Linked DNA regions of Homo sapiens: all the other regions are linked to region 3. The links come from fine-mapping of genetic effects on gene expression. A gene starts in region 3. Each other region holds a variant in brackets. All regions are shown on one strand. Distances are from middle to middle.

Evidence for each region. PIP is the estimated chance that this variant, and not a neighbour inherited with it, causes the effect.
Region 1: its variant is fine-mapped to the expression of RAI1 in whole blood (TOPMed, PIP 0.94).
Region 2: its variant is fine-mapped to the expression of RAI1 in whole blood (TOPMed, PIP 0.93).

The regions. Positions count from the first base shown.
Region 1 is chr17:17,752,331-17,762,631 of GRCh38, forward strand. The region is part of intron 2 of RAI1 (retinoic acid induced 1); the gene reads left to right. RAI1-AS1 (RAI1 antisense RNA 1) reads right to left here. Exons shown (of 2, transcript NR_130894.1): 2 at 6,824-7,056. Among named protein-coding and RNA genes, the nearest start is that of RAI1-AS1, 8.8 kb to the right of the region's middle. RefSeq lists a silencer at 1-220 and enhancers at 1-626, 5,206-5,305. The variant A/G (reference allele first, on the strand shown) is at 6,177.
Region 2 is chr17:17,696,914-17,707,214 of GRCh38, forward strand. The region is part of intron 1 of RAI1 (retinoic acid induced 1); the gene reads left to right. LOC124903943 (a long non-coding RNA gene) reads right to left here. Exons shown (of 2, transcript XR_007065650.1): 2 at 637-10,301. Among named protein-coding and RNA genes, the nearest start is that of RAI1, 21 kb to the left of the region's middle. RefSeq lists enhancers at 1,816-2,334, 2,335-2,852, 3,332-3,843 and a silencer at 9,262-9,556. The variant G/A (reference allele first, on the strand shown) is at 4,706.
Region 3 is chr17:17,675,048-17,685,348 of GRCh38, forward strand. RAI1 (retinoic acid induced 1) reads left to right here and starts at 6,411. Exons shown (of 6, transcript NM_030665.4): 1 at 6,411-6,746. It overlaps SMCR2 (Smith-Magenis syndrome chromosome region, candidate 2), which reads right to left and starts at 2,641. Exons shown (of 4, transcript NR_131243.2): 1 at 2,528-2,641; 2 at 1,163-1,324; 3 at 319-475. RefSeq lists enhancers at 357-985, 6,452-7,053 and silencers at 6,132-6,641, 6,672-6,811, 6,872-6,951, 6,963-7,135, 7,122-8,071.

The sequences.
Region 1 (10,301 bases), 77 kb after region 3:
GAGGGGCGGGGCGGGGTGAGCGGAAAGGGGCGGGGCTGACCTGTGGGCGGGGCCCCCGGGGCGAGGCTGGTCTTGTACTGGCGCGCGCTGCCTGTGATTAACAGGCGGGCGCGGCCGCGCGCGGCTGGAAAGGGGCGGGGCTTCCGGAACAGCCGCCCCGGGAGCCTGGGATAGGGGTGAGTGCTCCTTGATGGCGGCCCCGAACAAAGGACGCCTCCAGACCCGGGCTTCCTGTCCGTAGTTTTTCTTGGCCCTTGGAGTCTGAGAGTGAGAGGCCTGCTAGGCCAGCGCCCCCTAATCCTCATCCGGCCGTGGGTGGCCAGGCACTGCAGACGTGTCCCCGGGGGCCGACCACCTTACTTGCCACGCTGGCCCCTCCCTCTCCTCACCACCACAGGGCCTTTGCACGTCATTCCTGGACACTCTTAAAGTCCTTCTTTCCGGCCGATTCCTCACCCCCTCAGGAGGCTCTCCACACAGACCGTGACCTGCCCTGCCTGGCACTCCTCTGCCCAGCGTTTATATCTCTTTTTGTGCACTCTCCGCCCTCATCACACGTGTGCCTCAGGGCAGGGCCCTGTCTGTGGCCTGGCACACAGTAGGTGCTCGGTTTGTGTTGTTGAATGCCTCCATTCATCAGGTTGCCTGAGGCTTCCTTGGTGGGTGGTGCCGGCTGTACTGGCCCGGGACTTGGGAGGAAGGGAGACAGATGTGCCTTCAGACCCAGACACAGAAGAGTTTGTCTCCAAAGCCAGGGCACTGGGTCAGTGTCTGGCCTGGACCCCAGGCCCGAGGAGCCTGGTTTGGTGTGTGCCCTTGGTGAATGGCCTACTGTGCTGGCCAGACAGGAGCCCCAGGGGCTGGCCCTGCCTCAGGAGGAAGGCAGGGTCACAGACACAGGCTGGAGGGGCCTGGAGTGAGGGCTGCTCAGGACCCCTGCCGACCAGACCTGGGAGCCCCAGCATCTGACTCTTCGTTTGTGTATTACTTGCTGTGCCTTGTCCTGGCTTGACAGGGTTGGAGTGGGGGTTGGAGTGGTAGAGCAGCGAGAAAATCTCCACACCCCTTACCCCCATGGCACTCCCACAAAACAAAAGGGAGCTAAACTCATGAAATCGGCTTCACGGTTATACATGGATAGCCTTTTGGGAGTTGGGTGATCTCTGGGGTATATACATTGTTTCCTCACCAACACCAAAAGAAAATGCAATTTGAGCCAAGCTAATAACAATGTATTAAATCAGAGCTTCCTGAGCTTTGCTGGGTGCTATAAACCACCCCGAAGTTTGTACTAGGAGCAGATTCCTGGGCTCAGGCCACCCTCAAATCACAGATTTTAAGGGGTGGGGCTCAGGAATGCCCTTTTATTCAAACTGCCTGTGTGTGGTTTTGATACTCAGTCTTAAGTCCATCATTTGAGAAATGGAATGACAGATATCTGTGTCTCAGAACACATTTGAACTCCTCTCCAGGCTCTAGAAAGTCTACCGTTCTCTGCCCCAGACCCTGGCTCCAGATTCAAGTCTAGACTGGAGGAACTGTGGATCCTTTGGGATTTGGAAAAAAGTTCTAGACCCTCTTCAGAAAAATGTGCTTGTCCACACACACTTCAACTTTGCATTGGATCTCAAGGTCTCATACCTGGGCTGGGTGGTCTGTAAAGCAGGGGAGACCTATTTGGGGAAAGGCCTCCATGCTGACACTCACCTGAACCTAGGGCCAAAGTGTATGGTTGTACAAGTTGTACATTGTACAAGGATCCCTGGAAGAAATCGAGCCACTGGCCAGCTGTGCAGCCTGGCACCTGGGGTGTCTTCCTGTTTTGTACAAAGGCATTTTATGCCATTCGCCTAACCCAATCTTTTTTTTTTTTTTTTTTTTTTTTTTTTTTGAGACAGAGTTTCGCTCTTGCTGCCCAGGCTAGAGTGCAATGGCGCGATCTCGGCTCACCGCAACCTCCGCCTCCTGGGTTCAAGCAGTTCTCCTGCCTCAGCCCCCCGGGTTCAAGCAACTCTCCTGCCTCAGCCTCCCGAGTAGCTGGGATTACAGGCATGCGCCACCACACCTGGCTAATTTTGTATTTTTAGTAGAGACGGGGTTTCTCCATGTTGGTCAGGCTGGTCTCTATCTCCCGACTTCGGGTGATCCGCCTGCCTCGGCCTCCCAAAGTGCTGGGATTATAGGCATGAGCCACTGCGCCCAGCCTCCCTAACCTGATCTTTAATTCCCCTCCTGCCTCCCATGACAACTCAAGTTAGTGGCACTAGTAAAGTTACAGAAATTATGTGCCTTAGCCATGGGAAACCGGCCCTCTGTAAACTGTTATTAAAGCCATAACAAATAATATCCGACAGCCTGTACCTACTAGTGTTCAGTTCCTGGTACTCCAGAGCCCTAAGCGTTTTTGGGCAGTGGTTGGGGGGCTGCCACCAGGCCTCAACTTGGGTTAGGAAGATAGGGCAAGGGTGCAAGGCCCGTCTCTGCACAGAGGGTGGGAGAGAGGAGTAACTACATAGTAGGTGCTTGGTAAGCACTTTCCCAGTCTACATTCATTGGGTCCATTTTATAGATCAGGAAAACTGAGGCTCTGAGAGGGCTGGTAATTTGGATTAGAGAAGGCCCACCTGTCTGGAGCGGCTTTATGAACACAGGCTTTGGAGTGCGACAGCGGGGAGGTCAGGAGAGGAGAGGAAATAGCCATAGCTGTACCCCCACAACATTCACACCATGCCTCCCCCTGAAGGCTTTGCCTGACGTTTGGACTGTTTAGAGGGCTCCTCTGAGCTCCCACAGCCTGAGCCTTCCTGTCACGGTGCTGCCACCCTGGTTTAGCAGGCCTGTTTACACACTGTCACCCCAAGAGCCTGGCAGCACCCCAGTGCTGGACTGTGAGCCCTCCACACAGGGCCCAGCGCATGGTGTGTAATACAGCTCTATGGAATGCTGAGTGGCTGATTAAGTGGGCTCTAGCTTCTGGCAGCTTTGCTCCCTGGGTGGATGGGGCGGGAGTGATGCAGAAAGGAGAGGTGTAGGCCTAGAGTTAGGAGGGCAGGGAGAGCACTGGGCACTGGAACCACTTGGCAGGGTGAGTTGGCATTCCCTGTTTGCCACGACCTTGGGGTCACCCTCACCAACTTGCCCCAGCTGGGCCTGACTGAAGGGCAGGGGGCCTGGACATTGGAGCCCAGGGAGGGCAGAGGGTGGTAGACTCAGGAGAGAGCTCTTTGTTTGGGGGCATTTCTCCAGCAGAGACCCTTAGTCCCTCCAAGGAGCATGTCCTCCTCCATCAGTCAGTGTCCTAGCCAGCAGGGGTGCGTCCCCCCAGATCCTTCCCTGCTTATCCTATCCTGGGCCCAGCCATGCTTTCTCCCATGGGGTCATGTCATCCTGACCCTCAGATTTGGCTGGGTCGCCCCAGGGCTCTCTGACAAAGCCCAGCTCCTCCCCTGGCACCCAGCATCCCTCAGACCCGGCCTACACCCTGTCAAGCCCGCCTTCTCTTCACCCCAAGGCCTGCCGTGCCTCACAGCTTGGGCAGGGCTGTACCCTCTGCACACATCACCCTTCCCTATCCCCAACCCTCTCCCTTTAGTGATAAATCCAGCTGGCCGCTCTTTGCAGCTCACCAGGGACCAGTGTCCCCAGTGCGGCCCTCGGTGCACCCAGTCCTTACGTGAGCCCTAGCCACCATGGAAAGCCAGGAGGGCCTGGCCAGCCTCCATGTGGGGTCTGGTTGGTTATTGCAGGGCCTGTTGGGACTGCCTGTGTCCCTGTTCCCCTGGGACAGGAGTTCTGGAGCCTGCGAAACTTAAGCATCCATCATGGGACCTGGCACGGGGGTGCCTGGCCACAGCAGGAGTGAATGAATTTTTTTTTTTTTTTTGGAGACAGAGTTTTGCTCTTGTTGCCCAGGCTGGAGTGCAATGGTGTGATCTCGGCTCACCGCAACCTCTGCCTCCCAGGTTCAAGTGATTCTCCTGCCTCAGCCTCCCAGGTTGCTGGGATTACAGGTGCCTGCCACCATGCCTGGCTAATTTTGTATTTTTATTAGAGACAGGGTTTCTCCATGTTGGTCAGGCTGGTCTGGACCTCCTGACCTCAGGTGATCCACCTGCCTCTGCCTCCCAAAGTGCTGGGATTACAGGTGTGAGCACTGCACCTGGCATGAATGAATTTTTTTATTTTTGGAAACTCCTTTGAAATAGTGTGTTTGCTTTCCACTGTCTTGTTCTTCACCTTTACCTCCCTTACGTATAAAGGTAGATGCAGTCAAGTAAAGTGTGCTAGCTTCAAATCAGAAAATCTCCATAGAGTCTTCCGCAAATCCTTGAGCGCCTACTACGTGCTAATCTGTCCCAGGTGCTCAGGACACAGTGTGAACAAAATAGACCAAAAATCCTCTTAGTGAAGCAGACGCTTGAGTCGGGGGCACTGGAGAAAGCAAATCAGTTCGTCGGTAACGAGGCAGGGAAGTGGACGGGGAGGAAGAGGGGCTTCTGTGAAGGTGTGCTTGGCCAGGCCTCAGGCTTCCCACCTGTTCACTGGGGTGATGTGCTTGCCCGGTGGGAACGGTATTCTGTTCATGACTGTTGCCATTGTTATTAACCGCATGCCCATTGCCTTTCAGAGTTTGTGGGCCCTCTCGGGCAGCCCCCAGAGGGTGCTGAATGCCGGGCCCTGTGTACACTTCACCCTATCTCCGCGGGGTCAGGCTGGCCACCTCCATTTACAGAGGAGCAGATGGAGGCCCAGGGAGGGATAGGGTGGTGTCACATGCTTGGAGCGGGGTCCAGGGAGAGCTCTTGGCTCCCTGAGGCAGGGAGACCCTGAGCCCAGACACACCCCAGTTTATAAGTGGGGACAGCTGTGGAGGTGTTGGGTGCTCAGCCCTGGGCCTGGCTTCTCTGGCCTGAAGACGGCAGCTCATCTGGCTGCAGAGTCAGGAAAGATTTCCTGAGCCTGGACTGAGAGGCCAAGGTGGGTTTGCGGAGGCAGGAGAGAGCTCCAGATCAGGAGGCAGTGTGGGCCAAGCCGGGGGGCGGCAGGATGTGAGCACAGAGAGGGCAGCAACCCTTCTACAGACCAGTTCAATTCCAGTAACCCCAGCCTGCCGTAGGGGTGGGGGACAGCCTGGCTGCAGCGGGGCCCACCTGCCAGTGTGTGCCTTGCCTGCGCTCCACCTTCCCCCTCGGGCACTGCGGCTTTCTTGGGACAGCAGGACCCCAGTTAAACAGCCCTGTTTCCTGCCCAGCCGTGGCTGCCGCCTCTTCTCGGAGGATTTTTTTTTCCCACAACTCAACAACCACTACCACTTGCAGCTAAGCAGAAGGGAAGTTAGGACTCGCATTTTGCCTCTGTAGCGCCTGTAATCAGCCCCACACAGCCCCCGCCGCAGGCGCCCATCAGTGCCACTTCCGGAGACTACTTGAGATACACCTGCTCACGCTAAAAGGAGAAGCAGTAATCCATCAAAACAACCCCAGGCGCCGGGGCGGGAGAGGCTGAGACTCAGTTTCCCCTCCCATGGAACAGGGCAGTGTTGGGCATCTGAAGTCCCCACGGGTCCTGGCATTCTGGAAGAACACGACTCAGTAGCTTTCCCCTTCTGGGCCTCGGTTTCCCTGTCTGCCAAAGGTGCAGGGAGATGAGCTCCCAGCTCATGCCTCTGGGCCTCCTACCTCGCCCCCACCCTCATCTCTCCCTTTCCAGAGACATTATAAATCAAACGGCTTAGAACGTAAGGCATCAGAAATTCTGAAACCTTCATCTATTATTAACGCTGACAGTAAATTCCCCCTCCGAGCGTTTTACATAGCAACTGTTACCAAGACTCGGTGGTGGAGCTGCTGCTCCAGCGGCCGCATCCCAGCAGCTCCGGGCAGGATGGCAGGGCCGCCACAAGCCCTACCAACCCGGCCACCACCTGGGCACTCAGCAAACCCTCTCCAGGGGATGGGCGGGGAGGGAGCCTTTGGCAGAGGAAATGGGTGGCTTACAGCTGAAAGGAGGTCCCAGCTGCTTTTGGTGAGCCCTGAAGACCCCAGCTCCTGCCTAGGTGAAGACAAGGGGCCCTGAAGCTCCCAGGCCTTCAGAGGCAGCACCTATGGACAGGGACGGGCTCCGGGAGCCTCCCTTCCTTGCTGCCCTGGTTAGAGGAAGCTTGTGAGATGGAGGAC[A/G]GGAAAAGGCTTCGTAAACTGGAAAGGGCTGTGCAGATGTTGTTTACCGACTCACCCACCTGTCAGCTAGACGTTCCTGAGTGCCTGTTTCTCTGCAGGCAGTATCTGGGCACCAGAGATTTAAAACAAAGACAAAAGGCCCAATCCCTGTCGCATCTGGCTTGGTAGGAGACAGACGCGCCAACCCCTAATTGCAGTTGTGCAATGATCAACGTATGTACGAGGAGCATACTCAGGGCGGTGAGGATATCGCAGAGGGCCCTTCACGGGGGCTGATGCTGGGCAGGGTTTTGAAGGATGAACAGGGGAGGGTCTGTGTGTTCTGGACAGAGGGACTGGTGTATGCAAAGGCCCAGGGGTATGAAGCTGCCCAGCTGACAGGTGGATTACAGGCTGACCTGTTTTGGTGGGGAGGGGGGCTGGTAGAGGGAGCAGGGGTCAGAGGGTGCAGGACCTTGAATGCAAGCAAGAGAGTTTTTACTTAGAGGTTCTGGTCGCCATGGAAGGTTTTCAGCTGAGGAGGAACAAAGATTTGGGTTTGGGGAGTATCACCCTAATTGCGCAGATAAGGATACCAAGGCCTGCGCAGGTGAGAACACCTGCCCAGGCAGGAAGCAGGGGAGGCTGGCTGCTCTCTGCAAGCTGTTAAGATGCACCTGCTGTATGTCCATCCCCACATGGGGAAGGGTGGTGTGACCTCAGACCCTGGGACAGCATGCCTAGAGAAGAAGAAGCGGGCAGGGAGCTTGTGGGCTCTTGCCAGGTCAGAGTGGCCAACTACGAGGAGTTGTCTCACTCTTTGCATCTCCAGAAATCAGGACACAAGTTGAGACACAGACTTCAGCCCAGCTATGGATGCGTCCGTTGGCAGTCTCTCCACCTAGTGACAAATAATATATATGTTCATTGCAGAACATTCAGCAAATAGAAGTCTCAAGAAAATAATGTTTCCCTGCAGTCTCACCCCACCACCCCCACCCTCTGATGGCCAGGTCACATTTTGGGCCCAGTTGCTCCAGAACCAGGTACAGATACACATTTTTTAAAACAGAAGTTGCATCATGTTCTTTCTGCATACCCTCAGTGACCTGCTTTTCGCCCTTCATACGCTGGAATAGTTCCCCATGTCTGCACATATTTCGGGGTGAGGTTTGCCAAGAGCCACGCTAGCCAGAGGGGACCCAGCTGACCTAGAATGTTCGGTGCTTGTCTTCAAGGGCAGAGGCCGTGCCTGGCCTGCCCACTGCTGCACTCAGCACCAAGCATGGAGACAGGCCCCCAGTGGATGCTGAATGCAGAGCTGTGAAAAGAAGTGGAAGCTGTGTCCGTGAAGCTGAGTACAAGTTGGACAGAGCCCACTAGGATGCTGTAATCTTGATCTGGGGCTAAATTGAGTCTTGGGGTAAGATTTGTGCTTATTAAGGGCTCTGGATGCTTGGGGTAATAGATGGAAGTTTTTCAGGGAGGGCTTCCTGGAGGAGATGGGCTGTAGAATAAAGCAGAAGGGAAATAAATGCATAACTGTCCATTCACTCATCTAACAGACATCCCCAGAGGGCTCCCTCCTGGTCAGAGCCCTGTGCTGGACAGGACTAGGCACCCAGACAGAGTACTGCCCCCACCTGCTGCCAGCCCTGGGGGAAAGACAGACAAGTGCCCAGGTCACTGTGGCTGTGTGCTCGAGCAGTGCTGTAATGGTGGAAGGGTAGACAGTGAGGGGCCAACTTTACTGATAGCCCCCACTTTACTGATATCCCCCACCTCCTAGCCAAAGAAGTTGGGGATTGATTTATGGGAGGGAGCAGTTTGGCATCAAGGTGTGCCTGTAGATGATGGACTTAGAGGGCTCAGGAGGGAAGCCCATACATCCTGCATACTCGGGATGGGCTTGGCATCAGGGTCAAGGTCACCCAGACTGTACCCAGAAGTTTGGCTCAGCCCAGTGTCCCTGGCCTGGGAACTCCTGGATGCCGAGGGTTTATGGCAGCTCAGTTAGTGGCCTAGCCCTGGGTCCCCGCCATGGAGAGGGGCCCCTGACGTCCAACGTCCACTCCCAGAGTCCCACACCAAGGAGGCCCCCAGCCCCACCCAGAAGTCAAAGGGTGTATCTTTCCAGAGTCTAGAAGCTGGAGCTGCTGTGGGGCCTGGGCCTTGGTCTCCTCGGCTGTCAAATGGTGGCACCACCCTGCAGGGAACGTGTGGAGCTAAAATAAAATGTGTTCCAGGTGCTGGTGCCACAGGGCTTAGGGCCACACTGCAGAAAACCCTTCCTCCTGCTTGGTCCTAGCTGCCCAGGGCCAGGCCAAGAAAGGCTTCAGGAAGAAGCCCCCACCTCCTAGCCAAAGAAGTTGGGGATTGATTTATGGGAGGGAGAAGTTTGGCATCAAGGCGTGCCTATAGGTGATGGGCGTAGAGGGCTCAGGAGGGAAGCCCCGCAGATTACCCCCTTGCCAAGAACCTCCTAGAACTGCATACTCAGGGGATAGGCAGCTCATTCACAGTGAAAGTGTTTTGGAGTCAAACAGACCTGGGTTCAAGCCCCAGCTCATTCACTTCCCAGCTGTGTGACCTTAGGCTAGTTCCTTGTCCTCTCTGTGCTCAGAGTCCTCATCTTTACAGTGGAAATGATAATGATAGACCAGTATTGTCCTGAGGGTTGAAAGAGGCGACCCATATGTGAGTGCCTCAGCACAGGGACTGGCACATAGTAAGTGCTTGGCAAATGAAAATGGTTCTTCTAAGGCTTTTTTTTTTTTTTTAACTAGTGCCCAAGGAAGTGGGGGTGGCAGATTCCTCACTGGTCTCTTAGGTTCCTGGCACACATGCAGCCACCAGATTGAGCCTCTGGAATCGTACCAATCCATTTACCAGCCCACGTCATTAGCTTTTTCTGAGCACCTACTCTGTGCCAGGCACAGGGGCACCATGGTGGAACTGGAAGCAGCAGGCTCGCTGGGAGGCTGACAGCTGTGGATCCTGACCTGTGGAGTGGCCAGTGCCCCGGGGGATGGTGGAAGGGGAAGAGGGTATCTAGGGCAGGCATCAGTTGGAAAGTCACAGTGAGATTTGAGAGGAGGTGATCCCTGAACTAGTGACAAGGCCTACTAGCATTTTGCCAGGCAAACTAGGAGCAGGTGGAAAGGTTGGGAGGCACAAAAGGTTGGGAGACTCCCAGAGGGTGCCAGTAGCTCCTTGTAAGTCATTGTTGCTGGGCATGAAATTTGGGAGCTGGGGAGGTGGGTGGGAATCCCCTGTGAATGCCAGGCCAAGGAGGCAGGGACAGTGTCTGATTGGTGACTGGGGCCTGGGCAGCATCTGAGCAGGGAACACAGTTGAGTGGGAGAAAGGTGGTGGTCACTGAGGAGCGAGGGCAGGTGGGGGGATGGAAAGGTCTCAGGACAGGGGGCCCAGCAGGGAGGGAGGCATGGGAGGGAGGTCTCAGGGCATCCAAGGGACTTTTGGTTGAACCAGAAGTTCCTGAGTGTGAGCGCGGCCCAGAAACAGCCACAGGCCTCATCCCTGCACTGGGCTCGAGGCTGGAGTGCCACCAGCAGCTACCCATCCATTGGGCATGCGTGTGTCTGCTGTATGCCCTGACAAGACAGATGGACTCTGCCCTCACGGAGCTTACCAGTGCAGAGAGAAAAGAGAGTGAATAAATATACGAGGGAGGTGATTTTGGAGAGTGGTAAGAGCTAGGGACTAGGGGAGTTCCCTTAGGCAGGGCAGTCAGGGAGGGCTTCTCAGATGAGGTGACTGGGCTCATTGGAGAAGACCCAGGAGGATGGCGTCCCAGGCGGAGGGAACAGCATGTGCAAAGGCCTGGGGGTCAGGGGCATGGCATGTGTGAGGAGCCAGTGGGAGCCAGTGTGGTTGGAGTGTGCATGGGAGCGGGGTGGGAAATGAAGCTGGGGAGGAGTACCCCTAACCTTAGACAGCTAAGAGGTTCAAATTTAGTTGAGGGAAAGTTCTGACTCTACCCCCAGCAGCAAGGGAGCTTCCCCACCAAAGCAGGAGATCTGGCTCTCAGCATTCACTTTACTTTCCTGTGTGACCTTGAGCAAGTGGCCCACCCTCTCTGGGCTTCCAGAGTCTGTGGCAACACAGAGGAAAGTGAGGTGCTTG
Region 2 (10,301 bases), 22 kb after region 3:
CTTCTGCTTTGACTTCCTAGGAGTTGGTTTCTGCTGCCCTTGGCTCCTCAGCCCCTCTTCTCTAGCCTCTCTCTGGAGGCATGCAGGCTTGGCACCAGCACAGCCTCCCTCTGCCCAGCTGCCCCTTGGCCCTAGCTACAAGCTGCCCTTGCCCTGACCTATCCCTACTGCCAGGCCTGTCTCTTCTCCCCTATTCCAGAACGGTTCAATTCTAACACATCCAAGCCCTGCGTGAAACAGGCCTTGGGAAATCACAGTTGCCAGGGACGGTTTGGCATTTAAAAGGCATCCAAGGCTTTGGGGAAAAAGCTGAAGAGACAAGAGGATGCAGGGCCCTGTATCAGAACAGCATCTGGATTTACTGGATGGAAAAATCACAGAATGCCCCTTTCCTCGGGAATAACAGTCCTGGCCGAGGGGCAGCGGGTGTGGCATGGGCACGCCATGCCCTGCCTGGCCACCACCTGCCATCACCGCTGTGTACTCTCAGAAATGAAAAGATTAGGGAAAAGATTAGGGAGGGACATTGTCAGCCTGCAGCCAACGGCCCGCTCTAACAGGTTTATTCAGTTGTAAAATATTTAAGACCTGTTTCACTTTACCTGTATCCAGGAGGCAGCCAGGCTGGGGCCGAGATTGATGTGCTGAACATGATTTATTTATCTGGATTTGCTCTTGTGGTCTGGGTGTTACCTGGGTGTGGAATTTAACCAAATGACAAGATGGGTTTGCGTGTGTTCCTGAGCTTGGGGATTGTGTGTGTGTAAAAAGTGAGTTGGGGTTTGTGTACATGGCAGGGGGTTGCTGTTAGGTGGCTTGTGTGTCTGTTTGTCACTGGGACCAACGTGTGGTTGTGTGTGTGTCTGATTTGGGGAAATGAGCTGAGGGTATGGGTGCTTACACACCAGGCAGTATCCACAGCAGGTCACACGTTCTTTGTGTGTTGGGGGCACCTCTGTGTGTGGCCGAGTAGCTGTTTGTGTGCATGTCCTGTGGTGTGAGACCTGGATCTCTCTCACCCACTTTTCATCAGTGGTGGGGCATTGCGCACTGACTGAGTTGCTGGGGCATCTGCTTTTCCATCCGGCCCTGGGTGAGCACTGACAACACCTGACTGTCTTCCAGTAGAACTGGGCCTTCCTGCCCTGCAGTCCAGAGACTAGAGGGAGTTCGGTGGTCAAGGTGGTCCAGGCCCACAGCCATAGCCCTAATGCAAAGCATGGCTCCTACTCCAGTGCGCTGCTGTGGGGTGACCCTGCTCCTCCTCCCTGGACCTCAGTTTCCTCTTCTGCTGCAGAGGGCAGGCGCCCAGGTCCCTGTGGCTGCTCTCACACACGGGCTTCTGGGTGGCTCATGGCAGGCTTAGGGCATTGGGCTGGGGTTTGTCTCCTGCCACTCAAGAGTTGAGTCCCACCAGTACTCAAGAACAGCAAGGAATGATGGGAAAATCCCTGCTTTGGGGCCCAACTCTGGATTCTGGGCGTTGTCTCTGTCCCCCATCTAGGCCCAGCCCTGGCCCAGTAGTCAGGAAAGCGGCAGACAACCCTGTAACAGCCCTCGGTCTCCCCCTCCCCCCACACCCCTTTATATTGAATGTGTCTGTCACTACTTTCCTAATGAGGCTGCTGAGGGCCCCCCTGGGGCAGATACCTTTGCAGACCGGAGGTGAGGGGGTGGGCCAGCCTCAGGGTCAGGACAGGAAGGGGAGCTGAGCCCTTCCCCTGCCTGCACCCCCAGGCCAGCTCAGCTGTGGAGGCATTGAGGCCCCTCTCAGCCCCTGAGCCAGCTGTGAGTGGGCATGAGAGCTTGGGGAGGTAGGAAAGCTCACCCCAGGCACTGAGTTTTCTTTGGCGCTGTGACTCTGTAGTAATAATACTTCCACCTGGTCGATATCTATGTTTGGAGGCCTACTGTGTGCCAGGCACTGAGATCAGCCATGATCTGGATGGACACACAAAATCCCTGCCCTTGAGGGAGGTGTGGCCAAAGGAAGAAAGACATTAATCAAAGAATCAAGTGATCTGAGTCGTGCATTCATGCATGGGAATGCCGGCTGATCACAAGCCAAGACAGAGGCCAGGCAGAGCTTCTCTGATGGAGACAGGGAGTCCTGTGCTTAGACTGGGGGCTGATCCAGGCACTGGGTAAAGGCTCAGCCGGGATTGAAGGAATCAGGAGACCCAGATTCTTGCTGTGTGGCCTCAGGCAACTGCCCACCTTCTCTGGGCTCCTAGAGGCTGGTGGCTTCCTTCTGGCTCCCGTCACCTCTGAGTGGAACTCAGGCAGTATATGTCTCCTCTTCAGTGCTTTTTGCGCTCCCTGCCAGGGCCCTCAAGACATCTGTCGGCAACATCCTTGACTTTGGAATGCTGGAGGCACTGCCCCAGGGGACGCCTGGAGCCAAGCACAGCACCGCTGCCTCAGGCCCCACCTGCCAGTTCCTCTGGGCCCTTTTGCTCTCACAGAGCCACCTGGATCGAAGAAAGCCTGGAAAACATTAAATTGAAGAATTAGTCCCCTATTTTGCCCCAAAATTGCAGAGAAAAGCATTTATTCATGCATTCACTCATTCATTTGCTTGACTAGTGTTTCCTGAACACCTAGTAATTGCTGGGCACACTGCACTCCATGTTGGACTGAGATGGCAAAGTGGTGGTCCTCCTGCCACGTCCTGACCACAGACCTGTTTTGAAAGCCCATCCATTGTCGGGGGGCCGGGGGGGGGGGAATCAAATGAATTGCCAGTGAGTAATCGTTGAGTGACTTCATTTCCAATTTCCAGTTTACATTTCTTCTGGATTATTCTACCCTGCTTCCCCCGGCCACAGTTGGTGGAGATGGCTACTGTCTGCCGGGTAGGATGGCCCACCCAGCCCACCAGCTGGTCACGGTCCCATCCCCCACCACTCCACCCCACCCTGTGCCTCTCCTGGTCATGTCACACATGATAGTGTGGCTTCCTAGTTATGAGCCCAGCCTCAGGAGCCAGACTGTCGAGGTTCAAAGCTCACTGTGGCTTGTGGGACCTTGGGTGTCCCCCTCCAAGCCTCAGATTCCTCTTGTGTAAAATGGGATCACAAGAGCAAGTATCCACTACTCCTGGGGCTCTTGGGGAGATTAAGTGAGAAAATTTATGCTAAATCCTTAAAACTCACATAAGCCTTGGCTGCTATCGTTGTTGAATAAATGAACCACTTGCAGGCTGAGACCGGGGCTGTGTGTCACATGGCACCTCTAGGCCTCAGTTTCCTCAGCTGCTTCTTTGGGAAAGCACATCTGCTCTCTAGGTTGGGCCTCCTCCCTCGTCCTTCAAAGACCTATTCTTGGGGCCTGGGCCCTGTGAAACCTCTGGCTCTCGGACGCAGCCTGGAACCCCTGAGACGAGGTCAAGCTCCGCGGCCCGCCTCCTGTCGCCCGGCCCCAGGCGGGACTGCCTTGGCAGGACTCGGGCCGCGAGCTGGAGGCGCGGCTCCCGGCTCGGGGCTCCAGCGGCCGCGCCCCGCCGCCCCTCGGCGTTCGCGCGCAGCCCCTGCGGGGGTGGCCGCCATCAAAGCGTCTTCTCGTTCTTATGCTAATGAGCCCCATTAAAGCTTAATGGCTGCGAACGCGCGGGTTTAATTGCACCTGCCCGGGCCTGAGGCGCGGCCGGCCGCGGAAGCAGCTGCGCGCCGGCCGGGACGGCCTTAATTACCTGGAAAACGACGCCCGGCGGGGAGGGGAGGGGATGGGAGAGAAGAGGAGAGCAGCGGGGCCTCCGCGAGGCCGGGCCTCGTCCGCCGAGGCCGCAGTCCGGCCCCTCTCGTCCTCGGGGCGCGGCGCGTTCGTTTCATTAATTTATCGCCCTGCCTCGGCGGAGATCCGCTCGCCCGCTCCCCGGCGTTCAACCGCGCCGGCTTCGTGCTCCCCCGCGCCGTCCCCCGGCCATCTTGGGCTTGGCATTCAAGGCCCTTCGGGACCGCTGCTGCCACTGACCCAGTGCCACCCTGCTCTGCACGAACAATAATAATGGTGGTTGCACATTACGTGCCAGGCGCTCTTGAGGGTTGAATGTGACCTCGCAGAGACCCCAGATGCCTCATCTCGGCCTTACTCCCCTCGTCTTTAGAAGCTGGTACCTCTGCCTGCAACAAAGACCCCTCTCCCTCCTCGCTCATCCTCCCTGAAACCCACCCCTGCGCCTCCAACAAGATGAGCCCCTGTCCTCCTGGGATGGGATTGGGGATGGGTCTGGGCCCTTTGTTGAGGGGTGGGCTAGCCCATGGTGAAGGTTGTCTGGGTGTGTCCTCCCTCTGGACTGACATTTCACTGAGGCCAGTCTGCCTGACTGCCCTATCTCTGCATGCCCCTGCCATCTCCCTGGGGATGGCCCTGGGGTTGTGGGGGCTGCACTGCTGCCCTGAGCCTTCTGCCTAGGCAGGGGGCTGTGAGACTGATGGGAACCTCAGGGAAACCTTGAGACCTAATGGTATTCTCTGTGGGACTTCCCTGTGCTCCTCCCCACCCCATCAAGTGATCCTGGGATAGGCGCCTGCCCCTCCTCTCTCCCTCATTCCCTTCTCTCACTCTTCTCTTTTTGCAGAGGGAAGGAAAACGGAAGAGGGAATAGACAGACCGCTCATGCAGTTTTTAGATGGTCCCCTTTCCCTCCCCTCTCTCTTCCATGTCCCCTTGTACCCAGCCCCTCTTTTTTCTTTCTTTGAAGACC[G/A]CATCTTGCTTTGTTGCCCAGGCTGGAGTGCAGTGGTGCGATCATGGCTCACTGTAGCCCTCAACCCGTGGGCTCAAACAACCCTCCCACCTCAGCCTCCCAAGTAGCTGAGACTACAAGGTGTGCACCACCATGCCTGGTTGCCCCTCCTTTCTGCCCCTTCCAGTCCCATCCCTCCTCCCTTTGTGCGTCTCAGAGACCAAAGCCTGAAGCATTGCACAGTGCCCACTGGGAGGCCACCCAGCCCTGGTCCTGCCTGTGTCAGGCAATGCTGAGAGCACAGAGGGGAGTCAGACTTGGGCTCTGCCCTCCAAGGACTCCAGTCGGGGAGGCAGCGCTCGAAAGGAATACTTGTCCTCTAATGGAAAAAGGACCAATTTAAAGGAAGCAGAGAACAGTCTTTGAGCTCAAACTGGGAAGGCTGGGAGAGGCTTCTAAGCTCAGCCTGGAAGGAAGGATAAGTGTGAGCTAATTGGCAGGAATAGCATTCCAGGTAGGGAAACAATTGGAGTTCAGCCCTGGCTAGGGCAGAACACTGGCTGACATGAGGGGAGAGGGAGTAAGGGACAACCACAGAAAAACTGAGCTCACTCCAAAGTGTGGAGGCATGAGGCTGGAGAGGTGGGCAGAGGGTCCTCTGTTGCCTAGCAACCTTCACTGCCTCCCTATTGCCAAGAGGACCAAATTCAGACCCTTCAGTTGGCACAAAAGCTTGTACCACCCACCTCATCCCAGGATGCAGCCTATTATCTTCAGCTGGGTTCCTCACTACCAGGCCAAGCCTCGGATGATGATTGTGAGCCTACTGTATATGGGAAGGGGGGATAAGCAGTGACCCCATCAGGGCTAATAGCAGTGGGGCCTGCTGCCCAACTCCATGCCCCTTCTCCCATTCTTGTCCCCAGATGTCCTTGCAGACAAAATGGAGGTGAATGGGCAGGCTGCCAGGAGCGTCAGGTGGCATCACAGCCGGGTAGACAGTCGTCACTGATTAATGAGGTGGTAGAAACCTAGAGGGAGGTCCCTACTGGCATGCCTCGGGGTTCTGCCCTTGCTCTGGTCAAGGCAAGGAATGAGGCTCACAGGGGTTTAGCACCTCCCTGCCAGGCTATGTGAAACTCTTGGTATCCAGTAGTTTATCACCAGCCATGAGGTGGCTTCTCTTAATATCTCATTTTGCAGATGCAGACACTGAGGCCAGTCGGGGTGAGGAGTGAGCTCAAAGTCACTCATCTCCGAGGTGGCAAAATTAAGCCTCAAACCCAGGGCTGTGTGACTTCAAAGCCTGTGTTTGTAACTGCGGAGCTGTGCGGCATCAGTAATGCATCTGCTGCTGCTGCCAGACGTGAGGAGGTGGGGCCCTGCCTTTCAACTTCATCTCTCTGACAGTGGTTAGCACTGTACTTTACGTGTAGTAAGTGCTCAATAAATGCTTGTGGACTGGATGATTGGGGCAGTAAGCAGTGAGCAGGGCTCAGAAGCAGTGGAGAGGCTCCATCACTCTTCCTCCCAACCTGCACCTCCACCCCCAGGAGTTGGACAGCGGCTGTAAGGGGACTTGGAGACTCAAGGCTTCCAGGCAGGGAGTGGGCTCACAGGAGGCTAGGGAGGATCCAACTTCCTGTCCAGGTCAGGGTCAGGAGGACAGCCGCGCCCCCTACTGCCCCGCTGGGAGGCCAGGCTGACGTAGGAAGGCTGCACTGCAAGTCAGAATCATCAGCAAAACCTGGGGAATAGAGCGTGTGAGGGTTTCCATGCAGGGTGGGGACTGCTTTCTGATCAAGCCCCTAGGCCAAAAACCTTTGGAAGGGACTCTCTGAGGGCAGTGCATTCTTGTAGCGTCGGGAGCAGGAGTTCTCCCATAACCTTTTTGGGGTGGGGACCCACCTGTGGCTCTGGAAAGGTGTTGGCTCCGGCTCTGGGGCTCAGGGGGAGGGGGCCATTGGTGGGCAAAACAAGCATAGTGAAAACTGAGGCTCATAGAGGTTAAGGTCACAGAGCAGAGCTGGGTCTGTTTTCTTTTTGTTTCTGTTTTAGTTGCAACAGGGGCTTGCTCTGTTTGCCGAGGCTGGAGTGCAGTGGTATGATCATAAATCACTGTAGCCTCGATCTCCTGAGCTCAAACGATCCTTCCGCCTTGGCCTCCCAAAGTGCTAAGATTACAGGCATGAGCCTTCATGCCTAGCTGGGACTGTTTTCAAACTCCACCAACCCCTTTTCTTTTGTTCCATTCCACTCTGCCCAGAACCTTCGTCTGGCTTCCCAGAGGGCCCAAGTCCTTGTCTTCAGAGGTCCTGGCTGGGGAGCCTTAGAGCATGGTCTTCCCTCACTCCAGGCTTCTCGGGTCTCCCTATTGGGGACTGACCGTGGGAGCAGTGAGCCACTGTGCACCAGGGCAGCCCGGCTCCTCGGGGGGTGGCCCAAGCAGTCAGGGCGGCAGGCTTGATGGGCCAGGGCCTGGGGACTCTGCCATGGTGGACCATTGTGCCCTTGCCTGGCTTGCCAGGAAAGTGGAGTGCGTGTGCTCACCCTTGCTTCTGAGGGGCCTTCCTGAGGCAGAGGCTGTCCCTGGACACCCAGTGCTGTTGAGGCAGCTGGGGACACTCAGACCATGGTGGACAAAGACTTGAAGTCTCGTTTCAGCCCTGCACAAGGTGTGACCTTGGCTCCAGCACTGCTCCCTCTGGGCCTGTCTCTTTCTCAGCAGAATCTGGGACTGGCCACATCATCTCCAGGGGTTCTAGCATTGGACGCCTGAAAGTGGACAACATGGCAGTGTGAGGGGGCTCTTTGTGGTGGGGTGGTCAGAATGGCCCTCCATGTGGGGGGCTCTTTGTCTCCCCAGGGCAGTCCTTAACCACCAGCCAGCCTCCCCAGGCACCCGTGCCGGGCAGTGGGGTGTGTAAAGGCCTGGCACACACAGACAGGAGTTCCGATCTCAACTCCATCCTCATGAGCTCTGTGACCTTGGTGAGTCCCTTTTCTGTGTAGCCTTTAACTCTCATCTGGAACGCAGGATATGCATAGTCCTGACATCAGGACGTTACCATGAGTAGTAAGTGAAACTCCCACTTCAGGTCCTTCGCCTGGTGTCCAGGGCATGGGAGGAGCTAATACGTGGCCTCTGCTGCTTGTGTTGTTATTGGTGGTGGTGTTTGAGATGTCCTTAGAGATGTTGGCCAAAGTTTCCAGTTCCCCACCCTCCCAAGCCCGTGGGGAAATTGTGCTTCCTGGTGGTTTTTGGGTGGGGGGGCCGGGGGAGGGTCATGTGACCAGTTATGGCCCGTGAGGTGTGAGCAGAAGTGACATGTCCCTTCTAGGCCAGAGCCTTTCATGGCCATGAGGATCCACAGAACTCACTTTCCTCTGGTAGACCAAAGTCAAGGTGGCAACTGCTCAGTGAGAGGGAGCCTCCCTGCTACCCCAGTGGATGGTAGTGTGAAGGATAAACCAACTTTTGTTGTTGTGAGCCCTTGAGATTTGAGAGTTTTGTTACAGCAACATGGCTAGCACATCCTGACTGATTCTTCATCATCATCATCATCATCACTCAAGCCTGTCCCCCGGCCAGGGGTCCATCCAGGAGAACAACAGCCATGGAGGAGACCCGTCAAAAAATAGAACTTTATTACCAATCTGTTTCTATAATTGTTTGACTCATTTTCTCACTCATTTGTTTGCTTTATCACCAATTTCTTTACATCATTTATTCCTTCAAAAACATTTCTTGGCTGGGTGCAGTGGGTCACGCCTGTAATCCGAGCACTCTGGGAGCCCAAGGCAGGCAGATCACCTGAGGTCAGGAGTTTGAGACCAGCCTGGCCATCATATAGTGAAACCCCATCTCTACTAAAAAATACAAAAATTCGGTGAGCTGAGATCGTGCCATTGCACTCCAGCCTGGGCAACAAGAACGAAACTCCGTCTCAAAAAACAAAAACAAAAACAAAAACAAAAACGAGCCAGGTGTGGTAGCACACACTTGCAGTCCCAGCTACTTGCAAGGCTGAGGCAGGAGAATCGCTTATACCCAGCGGGCAGAGGTTGCAGTGAGCTGAGATCGCACCACTCTACTCTGGCCTGGGCGACAGTGCAAGACTCCCTCTCTCAAAAAACAAACAAAAAGGCTGGGCACGGTGGCTCACGCCTGTAATCCCAGCACTTTGAGAGGCCGAGGTGGGCAGATCACGAGGTCAAGAGATGGAGACCATCCTGGCCAACATGGTGAAACCCCCTCTCTACTAAAAATACAAAAATTAGCTGGGCATGGTGGCGCGTGCCTGTAGTCCCAGCTACTCGGGAGGCTGAGGCAGGAGAATCTCCTGAATCCGGGAGGCAGAAGTTGCAGTGAGTTGAGATCGCACCACTGCACTCCAGCCTGGCAACAGAGCGAGACTCTGTCTCAAAAAAAAAAAAAAAAAAAAAAAAAGGCAACAAAAACCAAACGCCACTTGACCACCTGTTTCATAGGCCCTGAGGTAGCGCACAGGCCAGCAGGGAGCTATGGATCATTCTGCAGAGCCACGGTGCTTGCCCAGAGGTCAGCAGCCCTATGGGATGCTTGGGGTGGGGCGTCAGATTTGCAGAGCTGGGGCGAGGGAAGGAATGGCACTTGGGGGAGTGGGTCTGCTGGAGAAAGGCCTACAGGTAACAGGAAGCACTAGGCAGTTGGGTCCGGCCAGCAGGGATGGGACCGTGTAGTGGCCAAGCTGGAGGGGGACTTTGGTCCCTGGGTCATGGGGTGTGCAGTGCTCTGCACTGAATGATGAGAGGGCATGCATAGGTGAAACAAGAGGCCAGCTGCTGAAGGGAGGAAGACCAGGTAGGCAGCTGGGCCAAGGATCCAGGTGGACAAGGGCTGGCATGGGTCTGAAGAGGAAGAGCAGGGCCAGGGAAAGCCCAGGGCTGGATGGCCAGTGGTTGTGAGCTGCACCAGCAGCCAGAGGGAGCCGGGGACTGGATGGGGGTGGCCCTGTGCAGTGACGGGGAAAGTTTGAGGGATCAGAGTAGAGTTGGGGCACCCGAGCGGCATCCAGGGGAGATGTCCAGGATGTAGGGTGGTGAATGGACAGGACATTGAAGTGAGAATCACCCCTCCTGCCCATAGACAAACCATTGGTTTGAGGGTGGGGCCTGCCCTGGGAGCCGGGAAGCACACATTTCTTCTCTGTGTGGGCTCAGGGGAAAAAAAGAATTGAAACTCCCACAGGGGAAAAGTTTTTAAAGATTCCACCATTGGAATGCTGGTCTTGTGTAACAGGAATGTTTTAATCCATGCATTTGAAACACAGTTATTGAGATCCTACTGTGAGCTGGGCTCTGCCCTAGGTGCCCATGGGTGAGCAGACAGACAGCGATCTCTGCCCTGGTGAGCTCCTTCCTGTCTTAGTGGGAGACAGGCAGCTAATGACGAGCAATCTGGGGCATGCTCCTTAGTCCTAAGCTACTCAGGAGGCTGAGGCAGGCAGATCGCTTGAGTTCAGGAGTTCGAGGCCAGCCTGGGCTACATAGCAGAACCCCGCCTCTACAAAAAATACATAAATTAGCTGGGCATGGTGGTGTGTACCTGTATTCTCAGCTACTCAGGAGGCTGAGG
Region 3 (10,301 bases):
TTGGGAGGCCAAGGTAGGCAAGGCAGATCACTTAACTCAGGAGTTCAAGAGCAGCCTGAACAACATGGCAAAAACCCATCTCTACAAAAAATACAAAAATTAGCTGGGCGTGATAGCGTGCACCTGTAGTCCAAGCAACTTGGGAGGCTGAGATGGGAGCGGTGCTTGAGCTTGGGAGGCTGAGATGGGAGCGTTGCTTGAGCTTGGGAGGTTGAGGCTGCAGTGAGTCATGATTGTGCCACTGCACTCCAGCCTGGGTGACAGAGTGGGATCCTGTCTGAAAAAAAAATATTGCCTAGAGCTAAGTGGGGCTCTCACCTGCTCCCTCTCTTCTCTCTGCTAGAGACCAGAGGCCTTGAAGGAAGGAAGCCCAAGGGTCTCTCCTGGCTCTGCTTCCCCATCACTGCCTCCACTTCCCCGCATCCCTTTCCCTGGCAGAGGCTTCTTGCCACAGGGCTCTGGGCACTCACAAGACCTACAAAAGAAAGGTTCACATTCACATTTGTCTTCTCTGTAGAAGTGCTGGAGGCTGATGGGGTGAGGGGGAGCAGCAACAGTTGGTGGTCCAGAGTTCTACAATGTTGAACTGTTTTAAATCGTCATAAGCCCAGGAGGCACGGATTGCTACACTCCTCGTTAGAAACCAGAGTCTCAAAGAGGGTGAGGAGGTACCCAAGGCCGTGCTGTTGGTGGCACGGTGGCAGAGCTGGGGCAGGAGTTCTGATTTTCCATCTCATTCCTCTGTTACTGTCTAAGCAGAGAGCCTGGGTGACAGCTACCTACACAGAAGAAGGTATTCTGGGAGAGTTTCCTCCCCTCTCTAGGCCTCTATGTTCTCTGCAAAATGGAGATAATAAGACTGAAATGCACATAGTAGGTGCCAAATAAGTACTAGCTACATGCTTGCTAATGGGAGTCCTCCTGCACACTCACACTCTGCCTGGGCTCTGTAAGAACAGCCCGGAGCCTCCATCCAGTTTTCATCGCAGAGGAGGCGGGGCGGCAGCGTGGGCAGGAGCTCAGGCCAGGAGAATCCCTACTCTAAGTATGACTGTGTGATCTTGGGCAAGTGACTTCATTCCCTAAGTGTGTTTCCTCATCTGAACAAGGAGGCTATTGAAATGCAGGTGAGACCTAGTGAGACAGCGGCTGCGGGAATCACCTGGCCACAGTAAACGCCCTTGCATCCTATTGAGTGAGCCAAGGATAAGCGTGGTCCCTGGCAGGGTGCAGGATTCTATCCTGAAATACACCCCCTCCACTTTCTCCTATTCCAGTCCACCGGGGCCTCTCCTCCAGGCAGGAAACATGATCTCCTTTTGACCTATGAGAAAACAGACAGGAAGTTCAAGGCCACACAGATGTGAGTGTTAAGAACCCTGGGGGGAAGGTGTCTGAAACCCAAGGCTGTGTGTGTGTGTGTGTGTGTGTGTGTGTGTATGTGTGTGTGTGTGTGTCGGGGTGTGCTGAGGGGTTGGTCAGCCAGGTGATTTAAATGCGGGTATAGAACAATAGGTAGTGGTGGGGCCCCGAAGAACTTAGATTCCTTAAAGATATTTATTTTCTTTCTCTTTCTCTTTCTCTTTCTTTCCTTTCTTTTCTTGCTTTTCTCTCTCTTATTTTTTTTTTTTGAGATGGGGTCTCACTCTGTCCCCCAGGCTGGAGTGCAGTAGCACTGTCATGGCTCACTGCAGCCTCGACCTCCCTGGCTCAAGCGATTCTCCCACCTCAGCCTTCCAAGTAGCTGGGACTACAGATATGCACCACTATACCTGGCTAATTAAAAACAAAACAAAACAAAACAAAACTTTTTTTTTTGTAGCGATGAGTCTCACTATGTTGCCCAGGCTAGCCTTGAACTCTGGGCTCAAGTGATCCTCCCGCCTTGGCCTCCCAAAGTGCTGGAATTACAGGCATGAGCCACTGCACCTGGCAACGTATGTCAACTTCAAAATTTTCACTTTTTGCTCTGCTTTCCAATCAAAACAAACCTAGCAGCCTGAGTTCGGCCTTTGAGCTGCAAGTTTGAGACTCTGCCCCAACACTGACTTTATTGAGCCTCTGCATTGCATAGCGTGCACACCCCTGCTCACCCTTCTACCTGTGTGCAACTAAGGATGACAAGCAGGGTCAGCAGCAGAAGTGTCTTGGGGCTAGCTCTGCTGACAGTGATCCCTGATCAGTTCCTAGTTCTCTTCTGAGAAGACTGAGCCCTCTCAACCAGCATCATTCAGAGCAGTCTCAGGATGGTTAGGCCTATGGCTGTCCTCCTCTGGAAGGGCCCTCGTTTGTTCAGAAGCCTCCCTGGTTAAAGCAGGCAGAGGAAAATCACTCTTGAAAGCTCAACTCACTAATCACCTCCTCCAGGAAGCCTTCCCTGAATTCCTTGACAGGACTAGGTCATTACTCTGCATGCCTGGGCACCACAGCACTCTTCATGGGTAACTTTCACATTGCAACCCAGGGTCTAACCCAGTGTCTGACCCACAGTGGGCTCTCCATGCATGAAATGGGTGACTAAACTCACCTGCTGTGTGACTTTGGATCAGTGACTTCACCTCTCTGAGCCTTGATTTTCTTATCTGTAAAATGAGTTGAGGCAAGACAGCATTCAGAGGGTCCTTGCAGATGTGATTAAATAAATTAAGAGTCTTCTTGAGATGGAGGGATTAGCCTGGATTATCCAGGTGGACCGGAATGGAATCACAAGGGTCCTCATGAGCAGAGGCAGGAAGGTCAAGGGAGGAAGTAGAAGCTGGGACAATGGAAGCAATTGTTTTCTTGCCTGTTCTAGCTTCTGGAGGTCACCAAGGGGTCACAAGCTGAGAAACACAGGCAACCTCCAGAAATTGGAAAAGGCAAGGAAGAGATTCTCTCCTGGAGGCACCAGGAGAGCTAGCCCAGCCCACACCTTGGCTTTAGCCCAGTGAAACTGATTTTGGAGTTCTGACCTCCAGAACTGTAAAGAATAAATCTGTCTAGGCTGGGCAACATGGTGAAACCCACTCTCCACAAAAAATACAAAAATTAGCTAGGCTTGGTGGTGTGGTATGTGCCTGTGGTCTCAGCTACTTGGAAGGCAGAGGCACGAGAATCACTTGAACCCGAGAGGCAGAGGTTACAGTGAGCCAAGATTGCGCCACTGCACTCAAGCCTGGGCAACAGAGCAAGACTCTGTCATAAATAAATAAATAAATAAATAAATAAATTAATTAATTAATTAATTTGTGTTATTTTAAGCCACTTGTGGAATTTGTTACAACATCCCTAGGCACCTGGCACACAGTAGGTACTCAAAAGTGGCAGTTCTGGTCAGGCGTGGTGGCTCACACTTGTAATTCCAGCACTTTGGGAGGCCAAGGCAGGAGGATCACTTGAGCCCAGAATTCAAGACCAGCCTGGGCAACATAGCAAGATGCCATCTCTATAAAAAATAAATTGGCTAGGCATAGTGGTGTATGCCTGTGGTCCCAGTTACTCAGGGGGCTGAGGTGGGAGAACTGCTTGAGTTCAGGAGTTTGAGGCTGCAGTCAGCTATGATCACACCATTGCACTCCAGCCTGGGCAACAGAGTGAGACTCTGTCTTACACACACATATACACACATTCACACTCACACACAAAAGCAGTTGTTAGTACCTTGACCGCACACCCTCTTCCATCTGCCTGCATATTCCTTCCTCCTCTCACTCTCTGGGACACCCATCCCCTTTGCAACCCAGGGCTCCCTTCCTGCCCATCCTCTGAGGTCTGCCTCAATCGCCACCTCCTCCAACCCTTCGCTGAACTGACATCCAGAAATGCTAATCCCTTGAACAAATGTGCTTCCTTGAGTGGTGCCTGAGCTATGGCTCCCAAAGAGGCCAGGCTTGTGATCCTCTTTGTACCCCCAGCCCTGCCTACAGGGTCCAGTGGCCCCAGTCATGTAAACTTGATACCAAGGAATTTTCAAAACAAAAAATACCTAATTCCAAGGCCAGAAAATTGACTCTCCTTGGGGTTCCAGCTGGTCTCCCACCCTCTCCAGGTGGAGAAGCTAGTCTTGGGGACCCTTGTGTGGGAACCAGAAATCTCCCAGCAAGACCTCCTTGTCTTGCCTCCCACTGGGGTCCCTAGAACCAGCCTTCCCTTAGGCTCCACTCAGGAGCAGGTTAAGGTAAGGCAGGGAGGGCAGGAGACCAGCTCGGGGTGGAGATTGGGAGCCCTGGATGGATGATAGGGACTGTTCCCATTAATCTAGCATCTTAAAGCAGTAATAGCACTTACTGCATGCCAGGCTGTGAGCTAAATGCTTTCCACACGTACCTCATTCAATCCTCTCAACAGACCCATGAGGTAGGTACTATTATCCCCATTCTACAGATGAGGAAACGGAGGCTCAGCAAGTTAAGTAGTTTGCCCAAAGCCACCCAGCTGGGCATAGAGGAGCCACGTTTAGAAACCAGATTTGCCAGGCGCGGTAGCTCATGTCTGAAATCTCAGCACTTTGGGAGTCCGAGGCAGGTGGATCACCTGAGGTCAGGAGTTCAAGATCAGCTTGACCAACATGGAGAAACCCTGTCTCTACTAAAAATACAAAATTAGGTGGGTGTGGCGGTGCATGTCTGTAATCCCAGCTACTCGGGAGGCTGAGGCAGGAGAATTGCTTGAATCTGGGAGGCAGAGGTTGTGGTGAGCCAAGATCGCACCATTGCACTCCAGGCAGGGCAACAGGGGCAAAACTCCGTCTCAAAAAAAAAATACATAAATAAATAAATAAAAATAAACCAGATCTGTCATCCAGAAACCGCACTTAAAACAAGCTTAAAACAACACAGTTCGCACTGGGATCCAGCTCTGTCTTGCTCTTGACATTCACCCTGGGAGACGGGTAGCCAAGTCCAGTAGGAAGGACTGTGGGGACCTGTGTTGATTCTGTCCTGTAGCTTGAGAACCTGGACAGGGGACTTCACCACTCTGCGCCTGTTTCCTCATCCACAAAATGTGATGAGCCGACCTCACAGAGGGGGCACCAGGATCTAATGAGACCATGCACAGAAGGGGCACAGCAGGCCTGGGACAGAGTGAGGGCCCCCCATCTATCACAATACCTTATTTTGCAGATGCAGGATTCACTTGTCCCAGGTCACCCACAAGCTCTGATGCCTTGACCAGCTCCCCTCTGCCCTACCAAAGGACAAATGAGGGAGGCTTCGATGGGGCTGTTAATGGGGTCATATCCCACAGACCCTAGAGCCTGGGTGGGGCTGAGAGGCTTCCCAAGCAGGTGGCAGTGAGCTCCCACCTGAGCTATGGCAAGTAGAGACCTAGGCATGAAATTGCTCCGAGGTCTGTACCTTAAGTTTCATGCAAGGACTCTCTCATTCAACATGCCTCTGTTTAAAGTCTGCCAGTGGCTACCTTCCTTGCACTAGAATTGCAAACAAATTCCTCACTGAGCTCTCTGCAGCCCTGCAGGCTCTGGCCCTCCCGATATGGCTCTGACTTCAATGTGCCCATTACTTGTCCCCTTGCTGACGGCCTCCTCACAATTCCACTTACTCACCAAGTTCTCTCCTGCCTCAGGACCTTTGCACTTGATGTTCTTTCTGCCAATGATGCTCTTCCCAGGAGGGCAGGCCCCTGTAGTCCCAGCTACTCAGAAGGCTGAGGTGGGAGGACTGTTTGAGGCCAGGAATTCAAGTTCGGCCTGGGCAACACAGCAAGACCCTGCCTCTAAAAGAACAAAATGCTCTTCCCAGACTCTACCCATGGCGGTTCCTCTTGCTATTTAGATCTTTGCACAGACAGGCCTCCTTCTCTCTCCCCCAGCCAAGGAGCCCTAGCCGTCACTTCACCTGCTAATTTTCGTCCTAGCACTTACTGCTCTAAAATTATCTTCGTCATGTATCTAAGCATTTGTTTGCTGTCTGTCTCTTCCCACCAGGATGCCAGCTCCACGACAGCAGGGACCGCATTGTCTCTGCTGATTCCTCAAGACTCAGCAAGGTGCCAGGTGCCCAGTAAATGAAGTTTACATGAAGCCAATGGAGTTTTGAAATCGAAAATGTTTCTCAAACTGCAAAGAAGTGGGCACAGGTGAGGGCTAATGGTGGGGTGAGGGTGGGGGCCTGGCCTGACGCTGGAAGCTCCTGTACGCAGGGCGCTAGTGTCCTCCCAGGCCGCACCGGGATCCCACCGCAGAGGCCCCCTCCCGCAGGCCGGCCAGCGGGCGGGGGGCGCGCAGTGGGGCGCGCGGACCGCCAGGGGGTGCTGTCGGGGCGCGCACGGCCCACCTGGCGCCCGGGGCCGCGAGCGAGCGCAGCCAGGCCGCCCGGGAACTTTTTTCCTCGCGCTCTTGCTCTCCTTCTCCCCCCGCGCGTCGCCCGCCCGCCCGTCCGCTCGTCCGCTCTTCCTGTGCGGAGGGGATCGCATTCCTCGCGGCACCCGCGGACACCAGGCAGGCCCGGCCGGGTGCGCGGCCAAGGCCCGCTCCCCGCGTCCCCGGGCGCCGCCCCCGCCCGCGGCTGGGCTCCGAGAGACGAGTGGGAGAGCGAGTGCAGCGAGGGCGAGAGGCGAGCCGAGCAGGCCGCCCTGCCCGCGGCCCTAGCGCCGGCGCGAGGAGGGGGCGCCGCGGCCCACCCTCCTTCCTGCCTGGCCGCGGGCCGGCCGGGCCGCCGCGCCCCGACCCCCATGGCCACCCAGGCCTCCGGGCCGCGAAGTCGCAGCGCCAGACCCAAGGCCCCCGAGTGAGCGCGGGCGCCGAGGTGAGCAGCGAGCGCCGGGGCGCGGGGGGCGCAGTGTATCCTGCCCCGGGGCGGGGGCGGCGCGAGGCGTCGGGATCCTAGGCCGGGTGATGAGCCGAGGCGGGTTCGGACGCCGAGCGCGCGCGCTGGGTGGAGATGTGGGGTCCGCGGGGTCCTTGCTTTGTGTGGTGTGGGGGGTGCGCGAGGTCACCGGATGGACGTCTGGGGAGCTGCAGGGTGGGGGCGCCCTGCGCCGCGGCTGAGGGTCTTCTGGGGGATGTGCGGCCAGCTGAGGTCGGGTGGGGGCATGGGGGCGCGAGGGGCGAGTGTGGCAAGGGATCTGCTTGCGCCGAGGCGCGGAGTCTTTGCGGAGCGTGGGGTGGGGACGTGGGGTGCATTCGCGGGGCGCCGGGGGCGGAGGTGAGCTTTGTGAGTGCGTCCGAGGTGGGGGACGGGGAGCTGACTTCCCCATGCGTGACCCGGGCCCGGCGTGGCCATCGCTTGGGAGTCAGGGCCGGCGAAGGCCGTGCGTGGCGAGATGGGTGCTCGGGCTCTCTGCGGTGTCCCTACCCGGGCAGCGGCCCCGGGGCCTGTGCGCAGGCCCCGAGGCCGGGCAGGAAGCGGCCCCCGCGACCTGGGGAGCTCTGTAGCGGCCAGGCCCGGGAGGCACGGGCCCTTCGGGGATGACGTCACGGGCGGGGGCCCCGGACACGCGAGCCTTGCGCCCCACAGACGGCGGCGCAGCCCGCCGCCCTTTTCGAGGCCGGCCCCCCCTCTCACGCGCCTTGAAGGCAGGGAACCCGGGAGGAGGACATGGGGGCCGAGTGCGGCGGGGACAAGGGGTGGCAGGACGCGAGGGTGACATTTGGAGCCTGGTCGCGCCAGGGGCCTCCGTGGTGGGGCGGAGGGGAAGCGAAACACCAGCCAGGCCCTAGGCCGTCGCGGCCCCAGCTTCCTGGGGCGCCCGTTTTCCCGGCTAGCAGTTTTCTTTCTTGGGGCTCTTGGTCGTTATCCAGTCCACGCAGGGGCCGGAGTGCGGGCTGCCGCGGTGCTCTCCTGCGCGGAGCCCGGGCTGGCGGGGGCGCGGCGGGCCTCGGGCTCTGAATGGATGGGAGCGAGTGTAACAATGCGCCGGTGGGGGCTGGGGGAGGGGAGGCCGCGCGCCTGAATGGCGGAGCCGGCCGGGCGCTGCTCCGCGCGCCGCACACTCTCCCGCGCCGCCTTCCCCGCGGTTTCGGCGGGCCCGGATTCAGGGACCCACTCGGGATCTGCACGGTTCCTCCCACCAATACTGTCCCCCGCCCCCCTTTTATGTCTTTCCAATGCAGTAGTGTGTTGAGAATTCAAGGGCATTACATCTGGTTGCAATCCAGTTTCATGCCGCTGCCGGGCTGTTAAGACCTCGCGCTGACGTCAGAGCAGGGGAATTACTTCTTTTTATTTTATCTTTTTTTAGTTGTCTGCTGCCCTGGGAGGAGAGGCGGGGGTGGGTTAGGCTAGCTCTGATGTGGAGGCGCCAGCGTGATGGGAGCCCCGAGCTGGGGGCTCTGCTTCTCTTCCTGCCCCTGCCCCCCTCCATTCTCCATACAGTCCTCGCTCTGCTCAGGGTCAGGCCCACCCCAGGTGGGGGGCAGCCCTCGCTGCAGACTGAATGGTGGCCCCTCCCTGCTGACCACACAGCTGGGTTTTCAGAGGCTTTCCTGGGACGTGGCCCTCGGGATCTAGAAACTGGAAAGGAATCTTCTAGTTTCCCACCCCTCCCCCTCTTGACAGGCAAGCCGGTATATTCGGGGCCCAGGAGCAAGGAAAAGTGGCCTTTTGCGTGACACAGAAGTGGACACATCATTCTGATCTCAGGGCAGGCTCAGCCCCATAACTCTGGCAAAAGCTCTCACAAGCAAAAGCCTTGGAGAGGAGGAGAATGTATCAAGGTGAGATCCAGGCCCCAGAAGCCAACTGTGGAGTGGGCAAAATAGGACCTTTCCCACCAGCCTAGCATCCCTCTGGCTTCTGTGGAGATAAAGGGAACTCAGGGGTACTGGAGCTGCCTTTCTCTTCCACTAGACTGTGGGGCTCTCATAGGCAGGGACCCTGTCTTACTCCTCTTTGTTTTATTTTTGAGACAGGGTCTTGCTGTGTGGCCCAGGCTGGAGTGCCTTGGCACAAACACAGCTCACTTCAGCCTCAACCTCCAGGGCTCAAGCGATCCTCCAGCATCAGTCTCCTGAGTAGCTGGGATCACAGGCGCCCGACACCACACGTAGCTAATTTTAAATTTTTTTTTTTTTCTAGAGACAGGGGTCTTGCCATGGCTGGTCTTGAAGTCCTGGGCTCAAGCGATCCTCCCTCTTTGGCCTCCCAAAGTGCTGGGATTACAGGAGTGAGTCACTGCACCCAGCCTTACTCCTCTTTAGACTCCCAAGCCTAGACCAATTGCTTTCAAATTCTTGCCCGTGACCTATAGTAAGAAATACATCGTAGGTAACTACACAGGTCACACTGTATATAGCTGAAACAAAAGTTTACTGAAATAACTCCCTTACTGTGTCTGCTGGTCTGTAATCCTTTTTGTTCTTGTGTATTTGTTTTTTTTTTAATTACTGATTGCTACCCACGAAATTAATTTTGCAATCCACTGATGGGTCATACCCAGAATTTGAAAAAAACAAGCCTAGGAAATGAATTTGCCATCTATTCATGCAACAAATGTTAATTGCAACCCTAATAATTCCTCTCATGTTAAACTACTCAAGTAACACTTGGATACTTGGGTGAAAAATGCAAATAAGCCAGAAATATATGTAGTAAAAGTAAAAGTTCCCTTGGCACCCTCCCTGCAGGTAACCCCAGTTAATAGTTTGAACGTATCCTTCCAGACTTTTTGTTACTCACTTAATGCATATATATATATATATATATATATATATATATATATGTATGTATGTATGTATATTACATATACCAATCCATGCATAGTTTTCTTTTTCCCCAAGTGAGGACATACTGTGGGCTCTTCCTCGGCAGCTTCCTTTTTCCTCTCCGTTTGTCTTGGAGAGGTTGGTTGTGTGGCGAAGTCCTTCAGGGCAAGTTCTGGGTTGACTCCTGGCTCCACCACATACTGAACAGGCCATTTACCTCTCTGTGCCTCAGTGTCCCCATCTTTACAATCAGGAGAATAACAGTACAGACCTCACGGTACTGAAGTAAAGATGCAGTGAGTTAATCCATATGAAGTTTAGAGCAGTGCTTTTGCCAATAAATGCTGATTGCTGCCGTCATTGTTGTATTGTTATTGCTGTTCTATCTCCATGGCAGCCCATGTTTGAAATGCATTGCTTTCCACAGCTGCCTGTGGCCATGGCATGGGTGTCTTTTTCCTCCCCTATCCAACGTGTGGCTCCACAGGGAGGGAGGAGGTGCAACAGCAACGGTGTGCGCAGAGCAGCGTCTCTGCGGGAGAGGCACCTGGGCACTGGGCCCAAGGGAACAGGGATTTTCCAAGGACCCACTGTTTCCAAAGTTCTGTGCTTAATGTCGGGGTCCAAGCAGGAAGCATCCCTGCACTTGACCACAAGA